2 separate regions of the Homo sapiens genome follow, and region 2 is linked to region 1. The links come from fine-mapping of genetic effects on gene expression. A gene starts in region 1. The other region holds a variant in brackets. All regions are shown on one strand. Distances are from middle to middle.

The links. PIP is the estimated chance that this variant, and not a neighbour inherited with it, causes the effect.
Region 2: its variant is the best candidate, but not a certain one, in a credible set for the expression of HMCN1 in sun-exposed skin (GTEx, PIP 0.66).

What each region holds. Positions count from the first base shown.
Region 1 is chr1:185,731,230-185,736,616 of GRCh38, forward strand. It overlaps HMCN1 (hemicentin 1), which reads left to right and starts at 3,162. Exons shown (of 107, transcript NM_031935.3): 1 at 3,162-3,818. The coding sequence starts at 3,551.
Region 2 is chr1:185,765,493-185,770,879 of GRCh38, forward strand. All of the region lies in intron 1 of HMCN1 (hemicentin 1), which reads left to right. Among named protein-coding and RNA genes, the nearest start is that of HMCN1, 34 kb to the left of the region's middle. The variant T/A (reference allele first, on the strand shown) is at 2,181.

The DNA.
Region 1 (5,387 bases):
AAAATAATTTTTTTAAAATTAAGAGAGCATCAGTGAACTGTGGAAGAACTTTAAGTAGCTTCATATATGTGTTAATTGGGGCCCCTAAAGGAAAGGAGGTTGAAGACAGAAAAAATAATGGCCCCAAATGTCCAAATTTGATGAAAACAGATGGAAGAAGTACAAGAAATATGAGGGCAGCCACATCAATGCACATCATAATCAAACTGCTCAAAAACAGTAACAATAAAAAAACTCTTAAAAACATACATGGTTTATATAGAACAAGTAAGTACAAAGATGATAGAGATTATCTTTTTATTGGAAACAATACAAGCAAGAAGACAAATGAAAGTACTGAAAGAAAAACAAAAAACCTGTCTACCTAGAATTCTTTACTCAGCAAAAAAAAAAAGAAAAAACTCTTTGAAAAACAAAAGTGAAATAAAAACTTTTCCAGACATACAAAAGTGAAAGAATTTGTCTCTAGTCGAACTGCATTACTGAAATTATTAAAGAAAGTCTCTTAGTGAGAAGGAAAGTGATATCAGATGGGAATCTGGATCTACACAAAGAAATGAACAGCACAAAAAATGGTAACTACCTGGGTAAATATGCTACATTTTTCTTATTTAGATTCATTAAAAGATAACTGACTCCTTATGCAAAAAAATCAATATAATGTGGGATTTAAAATATAGTAATATGCAATAAAAATGGATGACAAAAATAGTAAAAAAGTCAGGAGGGGAGAAATGGAAGTATACTAATCTAAGGTTCTTATACATGAAGTGGTATAACACTACATGAAGAAAGGCTGGTAAATTAAAGATGTATACTATAAACTGTAAAGCAACCACTAAAAGAGTTTTAGCTAATAAGCTAGCAATGGAAATAAAATGGAATCATAAAATATTCAAAAAGAAGGCAAAAAAAAAAAAAAGGAACAAAGAATAGATGGAAGAAATAGAAAACACATAGCATGGTGGCAGATTTAAACTCAACCATATCCATAATCACATTGAGTGTAAAACATCTAAGAGCACAAATGAAAAGGCAGAGATTATTAGCCTGGATGAAAAAGCAAGACCCAATTTTAGGGTGACTACCTAAAATATACTTTAAATATAAAGAAAAAAATAAGTTAAAGGTGAAAGGATAGAAAATGATACACCATGCAACACTAATCAAAAGAAAGTTGCAGTGTTAATATCAGACAAAGTATATTTTGGAACAAATAATACTACCAGGGACAATGAAGGCAACTTCATAATGATAAAGGCGTCAATTCATGTCCATTATGTCAAAAGGACATAATAATCCTATGTGCTTATGTAACTAACCACAGAGCTTCAAATACATGAAGCTAAAACTCATAGAACTGCAAGAAGAAATACACAAATCCACAATTGTCGTCAGATATTTCAATACCACTCTCAAAAACTGATAGAACAAATAGGCAGAAATCAGTAAGGATATAGAAGATTGGAACATTATTAAACAACTTGACCTAATTAACATTTATAGAACATTCCACCCAACAGCATTCTTTTCAAGTGCACATGGAACATTTATAGATCATTTAATCCTTATTAGGTGGGTGCTATCATTATTCCCATTTACAGCTGAGTAAACACAGGTCTGAAAAAGTTTGGTAACCTTCTTGAAGGTCACACAGTTAAATGTCACAGCTGGGCTTTCAACCCAGGGTATCTGACCCAGAACTCTTAATCACTAGGCTCTGTGGCCTCCCTTGAGCACCTGGAATAGCTCAGGTCTCTAAGACTTAGAATGAAATCCTTTTTAAATAAACAACGGAATGGGAGACTCAAATAGCATTCTCTAAATACTGCTTGAGAAGGAAGTACCTTCCCCCTTTCCTCTCATATTCCCACTCAGCCCAAATGGCCTGTCTGCTTCCTTTAAGTGACATGACTTATAGGTATCATAAACTCGGGTTCCACAGCCGCTGGGACTGAAAGAGAAGACAGTTGTAGATTACAAAAGGTTGGTGGGAGCTAACTCTTCCTCAGGCTGCATCTCCGTTGGGTGGGCGGTCTAATATACATCCAAACAGAGATCAAGATGCCTGTTTGCCCCTCTTTAAATGCTGGGATCTGGACAACAACTCCTTTTCCAGGAAGGAAATGCGTTTTTATTAAAATGACATAAAGAATCCTTAGTTCATGGTAGACTTTCTTTGCTTATCCTCTTATCTCTGTTATTAGTACTATAACGTATATAGCAATCACAACACGGAAAAACGTTGGCATGTCTTCCAGGGTGAGGTTTCCTTCTTGACTGGCAAGAAAATGCCATAGAGGGGAGCACCTTTCCAATAGATCTTTGGCTGAGACCTGAGGCATGACTGTTCCAGGGGAGGAAATCTGAAACGGGGATATTATTCTGCCTTACTATGCTGAGCGTAGGATTCAAACTGCTCAGCAAATGTGAATCTTGATAATACAATTAAAAAATCAATTTTCTCTTTAATATGAATTTTATGTCTCATCTTTCCCCACACCTCTCTCGCCCCTCCTCCTTGTCCTTTCTACGGGGCTTCCATCCTGTATTCACATTCCCCTCTACAGTTAGTGACTACCTAGTTCTTGTCTCTCATTTCCCTCAGCAGCCCCTTTCCTCTTCCTGGGCTTCTTGCCCCTTCAGCGTTGTCCTCCCTTCCTTCCCTGCAGTCCAGAGTCTCAGAGGAGATCAAAGAGCGATAGTGTGGCTGCCTCGCAGCTGAGAGAATTTTCCAGCTCCCCCTCCTGGCTGGGCCGAGTTGTGGGCTGAGAGGCAGGAGGCTGGGCTGGGGCGTCTTGACTTTTGGGGGGAATTAGGAAAGAGGTGTCTAAAGCCGCGTTGTACACAATAGAAAAACAAAATTCCCTTTGTGCTAGTGTGGTGTCCCTCGGTTTGGGTCTTTGCCACACATTCTTGAAAGCCATTGTTTACACTAGCGTTTTGCAGGTTAGGAACGGTGCCGGTGGGAACCGAGCTGACACCGTAAGCGCTTCCCTGGGACTGAATTGACCCTACAATCAGTGGAGGGAAAAGTCACCCTCCGGGGGGGCCTCCAGAGCAAAGGAGGGAGGACGGCAACTGGCCAATCAGGAGGCGAGGCCGAGCCAGGCTTCCCCTCGTCGCTCGTGAGCTGCAAACAGTGGAAAGTTGGGAACCTCAGTCGCTGGCCCAGGCGGAGAGCAGCGGCGGCGGCGAGGGCAGCGGGATTCGGGCCGCGGCGCCGCAGGCTCAGAGCTGCCCCCGGGGCATGGACCCGACGCGCCGCCCGCACTCCGCCACAGGCTGTCCAGGGCCCGCGGGCAGATAGCAGTCCAGGAGGAAGCCGCATCCAGACAAAAGCTGCCGCATCCCTGCCCTGCCCAACCCCTGGAGGGATTCGAGTTTGGTGCTTGTCCCCGTCTGATTCTCAGCGCCAAACTTTTTGCTAGTTCAGAGATTCCAAGAGTCTGATGAGTTACTCTGAGAGGAAACCCTCTGCCTGTTGTTGAGGAGGACTGAGCACAGTGCTTAGGCGCTGAGGGGGAAAAAGAGGGGGAAAAAAAAGAAAATGATTTCCTGGGAAGTTGTCCATACAGTATTCCTGTTTGCTCTTCTTTATTCTTCCCTAGCTCAAGATGCGAGCCCCCAGTCAGAGATCAGAGCTGAGGAAATTCCCGAGGGGGCCTCCACGTTGGCTTTTGTGTTTGATGTGACTGGTTCTATGTATGATGATTTAGTTCAGGTGATTGAAGGGGCTTCCAAAATTTTGGAGACGTCTTTGAAAAGACCTAAAAGACCTCTTTTCAACTTTGCGTTGGTGCCTTTCCATGATCCAGGTAAGGGAAATATTTATACTTTGTCTTTGCTATGTCTCATGATTACATTATTTCTCATGCTGTGAATGAAATTGTTTGTCAGGAAGTTTCAAAACCATTTTAAAAAAATGTGCAGCTGAAAATAGTTGTAACAAAGAATTACTTGCTGGCGTCTGGGTTTGCTCATTGATACCTACTTAAGTCTCAGCCCTGGTGGAGATGGCTTGTTTAGGGAACTTGTACTGTGGTCCTCAAACCTGGAAATGTGGAGTTACGAAAAACAAAACCAAAAATCTTGGGCAACGACATCAAAATCACTTAACTCACTTAGATTTTAGAACTAAAGCATGTTTAATTACGAAGGCAGACTTGGACACGAATTTATAGCAGCGAAGCTCTAGGGGCTAACATCCAGATTGAAAGCACACTCTGAGGGTAACTCTCATTTAAGAGGGGAAAAAACCTGTTGTGTGAGACACAAGGAAGCCTGTAAGTAGTAACTACTAGTGGAACTGAAGACATGAAAAGAAAAGAGAGAAACCAATCATTTCTTAACTGAATCTATTCATCTTTGCACCAGGGCATCATTAGATAGGTTCACAGATGGGTATAAACATTACATCCATGTCTCCTGCGGTAGAATTGCTTGTAATTCGGAATGTCTGTGCTTTTTAAAGGTAGTTGAAGTGAAATAACTTCATTTTTGCCCTAAAGCCGTAGGTTTCAGCAGCTCCACTGTAATATGATCCTATTTACTTTTTTCAGTTTCTCTTTAAAGTAGCACCTCTCTGTGAGGCTTATAGGAGCCCCCATTGCCATAGCTGAGGGTAGCCTTGCAAGGGAAACCCTGGGGCTGGCAGTCTAATGTCCACCTGAGTTTCATTAGCACAAGTTGCTGCCCAGTTGAAGAAATGAAGCAGTGATTTCTTAACAGTCCTCCCCCACTGTTCTCCCACACTTTTCCTGCTTTTGAAATTCTCCCTTCACTAGAAGAACTTGACACAACCTCTTCACAACGAGAGTGTGATATCGGCAATCTGAAATTCCTTCCTGTGCATTTAGCAAAAGTATATAAGTTCAAATTATTGGTAGGTATTAAATATGGCAGGTTTTAACTATTAAACAATGGCACTGGGAGAAATTTAAAGATATATAGAACTCTCGGATTTTCATGCTCTTCACATGATGAAAACAATCTGTACTACTCTTCTGGGATATGTAATATATATATACACACACATACACATACATACATTACATATATGTAATTACATATATTTGTAATTTCTACATTGGTTAAACATGAATATTATTTATATTTGAATAAAGAATTGAATGATTATTTACTGTGTTTACTGTCTTAGACACTTCATATGTTGTGATTTTCAATGTATTAAATGTCAAGATGCCAACTGTGATGCAGTTTGAGGTTTTTGTTATTTCGGAATACCTTGAGTATGTTTCTTCTAGATGGATGAGTCTGAAGTTAGCTAAAAAATGAAGTGAAATTTTGTTTTTTCTCTAACACCACGATTTGCTTTTCACCAAAGAACTCTTATGAAATTATATTGCTGTAAACAGAATACAAAA
Region 2 (5,387 bases), 34 kb after region 1:
TTTCACATCTTTTATTTCATTTAATATTCTCAGCAAAACTCTTGAGGTAAGTACCACCAGTATCCCTGTTTCACAGATTAGGTCACCAAGATGAGGAAACCAAGGCATAAGGAGGCATGATAACATGTCTGAGTTCATATATCCAGTAGATGGGTAATTAGGACCAGAATCTGAGTAATTTAACTTGAGACTTCATTCTTGAACAATAATGCAGTAGGGCAATGGTTCTCAAAAGGTGGTCCCTGGACTAGCAGCATCAGCATTAACTGGGAACTTAGTATAAATGCAAGTTATCAGGCTTTACTTAAGAAACTGGATGGGGCCCAGCAATCTGTGTTCTAATCTATGTGATCCTTATTTTTGCTTAAGTTGGAGAACTCTTAAGGTAGAGCAAAGGCCAGTCTCCTGCTGTTCTGGATCTTCTTATCAATATGTGGTCCATTGTAAAAAGCTCCTCTTCTTCCTGTGGTCTGGATTGTTCAGCTACTCCTGGGGTTCTGTGTACCCATATCCTTATGACTACCTCCAGGTATTTAAGGTAGCTTGAGTTATCTTTGTGATATGCAATTAAAATATATAATTAAAACAAACACATTAGACAACTGGAATATGTTCGCTTTAATGAAGCTTATTAAACCAAAGCAAAGTTCTATATCTGGAAACATGGTAAACCAGGATAGTCAGACCAACCCTGCCACTGAAAACAGCAAAAATGTTTTTGATGAATACCTGTATAATCTGAAAAGCATGAGAATGCTGAAAAATAACAAGGAATTGCCTGGCCAAAATCTCAGAAGAAAATGAGAACTCAGAGACTGGGGGAATGCTGAAGCTGCTTCTGTCTGAGGACATTAGCCAGTTGCATAACCCAGCCAACTTGAGCCCAAGGCCTACCCATGGTAGGGAGTTTAAGAGGGGACATTCTCCCTGAATAAAGCTGAGATCCCAAGGGCTAAAGCTCAGGATAATGGTGAACCACAAGTAAACTCTTCTGGCCGTCTCAGGAAACTGCACGAGTAGTCATTTTAGTGCTTAGCAGAAGATGGCCCCAAAATCAAACCAAATGAAATAAACAGATCTTTGAGAAGTTTTAGCCAATCACTGGTGTTCTCAAGGACTCATTGCTTAAATACACCTTACCTAGGCAGTTAAAACAGAGCTAGGTGTGAATTTAGTTTAAGGTTGTTCTGAACAGGTGGTGCTTTTGTGTGTGTGTGGTAGAAGGAAATGCTAGTCCTAAGCCTCCGAGAATTCCCAAATAGTTCCATGAATAACTTGGGCAAATCACGGTCAAATTTAAGCAAGCATACAAGGAATCTAGGAACCCAGGATAAGAACCAGCAGAAACAACCAACCACCGAAATAGAACCACACAACTTAAGGTTTCATAATTGTCAGACAGATTATAAAACAAAACCCTCTCTTTAAAGAAGTAAGGCAAGCTTCAAAATGTTTTAAGGGAATAGGAAACTAAAATCCTAGCAGATTTGAGGAAAAAATAGAATTCAGAGAAATCATTAAAAAAAAAAAAGGAATTAAACCAAGGGGCTGATAACAAAGGCTTAATGTGTTTCGTGCTCTGAATAACCTTGTTTATTTTTTGATAAGAGTAGATTTTGTGAAATGTACTTTATGCAGTTAATTTCAGATTCAAATTAGTGAATAACATGCTTCAGTTAATATTTACATTCTAGATTGTCGATATATAAAGGTAATTTAAAGTACAGTAAACTTACATTAAGTTTATATTTCAGTGTCCGCATCCAACTGAGAGATTGATTTAGTGATTTGTGAGCTCTCCAATAATTGAGCAAAGGCATGATATTGATCTCAATTATCTGAATATATCATGAACACTTGTGAATTTTGAGAGTAAATATTTCAGTTAAATGGTATCAGCTTTCCATTTTACTTATCAACTTCAATTAAAGTGTTTAAAGGGAATAAGTAACTTTGGAAGCAATGCAAAGATAAGACAATAGTGACAATTTTACAAGTATGCAAGTAGAAAGTTTCTGGGTTCCACTAGCATGCAGCTGATTTAACAGTAACACAATCTGTATTCCCCAGAGAATAATTTTAATGTTCAAGATTCGTAAAACTTATAACTGAGGCTTAGTGTGTGGAAAGGAGAGAAGCACTGTGTTTTAACTGTGAATAAAGGTATCTGCAAATGTTGG[T/A]TATGTAATATCCAATTCATCCCTAGAGATGCTAATTATTCTTTAAGAATGTGGTAATGAGGTGAAACACACTGTTTGCCAGCAGGCATAATAGATCATATTTCATATCACTCATTTAAATCAGGGCATTAATTTTCATTACAAGATAAAGTCAGTGATAGAAACAGAGGCAAACTATGGGGAATGAAAAGTTTAGCAAGTATAGGCAATAAGCCACACAATAGTTGGCTCTTGAAATGCTGATCTCATTTACTTGCAGCCAGACTTGTTGAAAGATGGCTATCAGAAGAAAAACAAAAATCCCCTCTGTGGTGCAATATTAATGTTAATAGCCCTTAACAAGGAAAAAACATGAAGTTCAAGTTAACTGCCATAAAGGATAATTCCTTTGAATGCAACATGAAGCCAGAGAGGGAAATATAGTTTCTACTTTTTGCATTATTATTATTCCTCACCATACGTTTACTAAACACCTATCATGTCAAAATATTGAGAAAGAAGCCCACTTCGTTCAGAAAACTTACAATTGGTATAACCAAGGGCCAGGATGACTCTCATAGGTGACAGTAAGTTGGCTTCTTACATTTAATGAATATTTTCATGTTTTGATTTGCATTTTATCTTTTTCCTCCTCTGTGTATTTCAGTCATAGATTAGATGATGGGCTGGAAAAAAGTAAGAATTTTTAGAGGAGAGGGATGATTTGTTTGACAGGAAAGCATGTAAAAACAGGTGGGAGAAGTTGGCTTAATCCATTGTCATGTCCTCTGAGAAGAGAAAAAGCAGAAACAAAAGGTAGGTAAACCCCAAGACTGAATGATCAAGAGAGTGCATACCCTTATGCTGCATCTGCCACGTGAATGAATGAGTAAACAAATACACTTAAGGAATGTGTTCTACAAGTTGATACAAAACTTAGTATATCTAAGGCATAAGGAATTTAGGGCAAGTTAATCACACACTCTCAAAGTCAAGATGGCCAGTATGGTTTGGCTGGGTGTGGCGGCTCACGCCTGTGATCCTAGCACTTTGGGAGGCCAAGGTGGGAGGATCACTTGAACACAGGAGTTCAAGACTAGCCTGGGCAACATAGTAGGACCCCATCTCTATTTATTTAAAATTGTATTAATAATAATAATAAAAGAATGGGCCTGGAATCAGAAGACATGAAGTTAAGTATCATATCTGTTACTCACTTTTTGACCTTGAACAAAATATTTAACCTCATTAAGCCTATCTTCTAGTAGAAAAGACGAAAAGAGATATAATTTACAAAATATCTGGTACATAGCAGGTTAAAATCCTAAAAGGAATATGAAAATATTTGTTTCTACATTATATGACAGTTGTATGAATTAATAGAATTTTAAATATTTGATTTGAGGGACATTTTATACAATACCTTCTTTAATATGATTTTGGCCAAGAATCCCCTTTCCAAATACTTTGGGAATAGGGAGACTTTTTGTGTTGCATTGTAAGACTTTATAATAGGCCAGGTGCAGTGGCTCACACCTGTAATCCCAGCACTTCGGAAGGCTGAGGTGAGAGGATCACTGGAGCCCAGGAGCTTAAGACCAGCCTGAGTAACATGTCAGGACTTCATCTTTAAAAAAAATGAAAAAATTAGCTGAGCATGATGGCATGCACCTGTTGCCCCAGCTACTCAGAAGGCTGAGATGGGAAGACTGCTTAAGCCCAGGAGGTCAAGGTGCAGTGAGCCATGACTGTGCCACTGCATACCAGCCTGGGTGACAGAGTGAAACCCTGTCTCAAAAAAAGAAAGAAAAGATGTTATAATATATGTTTGGATAAAAAGAAAGCCTAATTGATGAGAAATATTTTGCCTATCATATAAAAAGAAAAATGGCAGGGTAGAGAAGAGTTTGGGTTGTTAAAAATGTATATGGGCAACTATATTAGTTAGCTTTTGCTGTGTAACAAATTATTCCAAAACTTAAATGGTGGTTTTTTAAGACAACCACCATTTCATATGGCTCCGGATTCTGTTAGTCAAAATTTGGGCTGAACTCAGCTGGGCAGTTCTTTTGGTCTTGTCTGGTCTTACTGATGCCTGTGTGATAAGCTGCTGAGTCAGGTAAGCCCTGGCTCTAGGATGACCTCAGCTGGGATTACTTACTCCATTTCTTGTGGGCTCCCATCATCACAGATGCTAGCTTAGGCTTTTTTATATAGTGGCTGGCAGGGTTCTAAGAGAGCAAGGGAAGTGTGAAAACCCTCTTAAGTCTATTCTTGGAACTGGCATACCATCACTTTCACCATATTCTGTTGGTCAAAACAAGTAACATGACCAGTCCAGAGTCAAAGGGAGGGGAGACTTTGCCTCTTGATAGGAGGCAAAGTTACATTTCAGAGGGTATGCATATAGACAGTTCCAGCTATTTTTGCAATCTTCTACAGTAGGGAAGTGAGTTCTAGTACATTTTATAATGCGGAGAATGAACTACAAGAGACTGATTCCACCAAACCTCAAAAACATCACCACTCTCTATAGAGAAAGGACTGAAAGGGTAATGTGAAGCTTGAAAGGAGCTGTGTTTGTGATGAATACTGAAGAGAGGAATGAACAAGGATTTAGACTTTTTCAGAGAGAGTATATATTAAAGCTATTCTTAGCAAAAAGTAAATAATTTAGCTTTTAACTTTAGATAAAGCATTGAAGACCACAATTGGGTAGTTGCAATATAGAAAATATAAAGTGTGCTGTATAAATGTTTTTTAAAAAAGAGAAAAGGAACACATAAAGAAAAAGATCCAGATTCTATTGAAAAATACAAAGATGGCATATGGCTAGCTATGATTTTCTTGTCCTGAAGAAAAATGGAGCTTTTGTTTTATAATGCAGTATCTCCATCTTAGACTACCTAAATGCAAACAGGAGTTTCTGAGAAACCTGATCTTTTTTTTGCACTTGTAAATAGGGTGAGGGGCAGGGGAGAAGTAATGTCTCTTCAGCCCAATAAACTGTTTCTAAGTTATGGCAGTGTGAGAATATGCCTTAATCTTTTTCAGCATTTATACTTTTTACATTCCCATTACTAATATTCACTTGCTTCCTCTATGGAGCAGTCATTTAGCTGGAACTATCATTTGATTCCAACTGACTGGGCAGGAAACAAAAATAAAATTGACATTTAAGTGCAGGGCCTTATTAAGGCAGTGTTTGTGGTCACCAGACTATTAGTT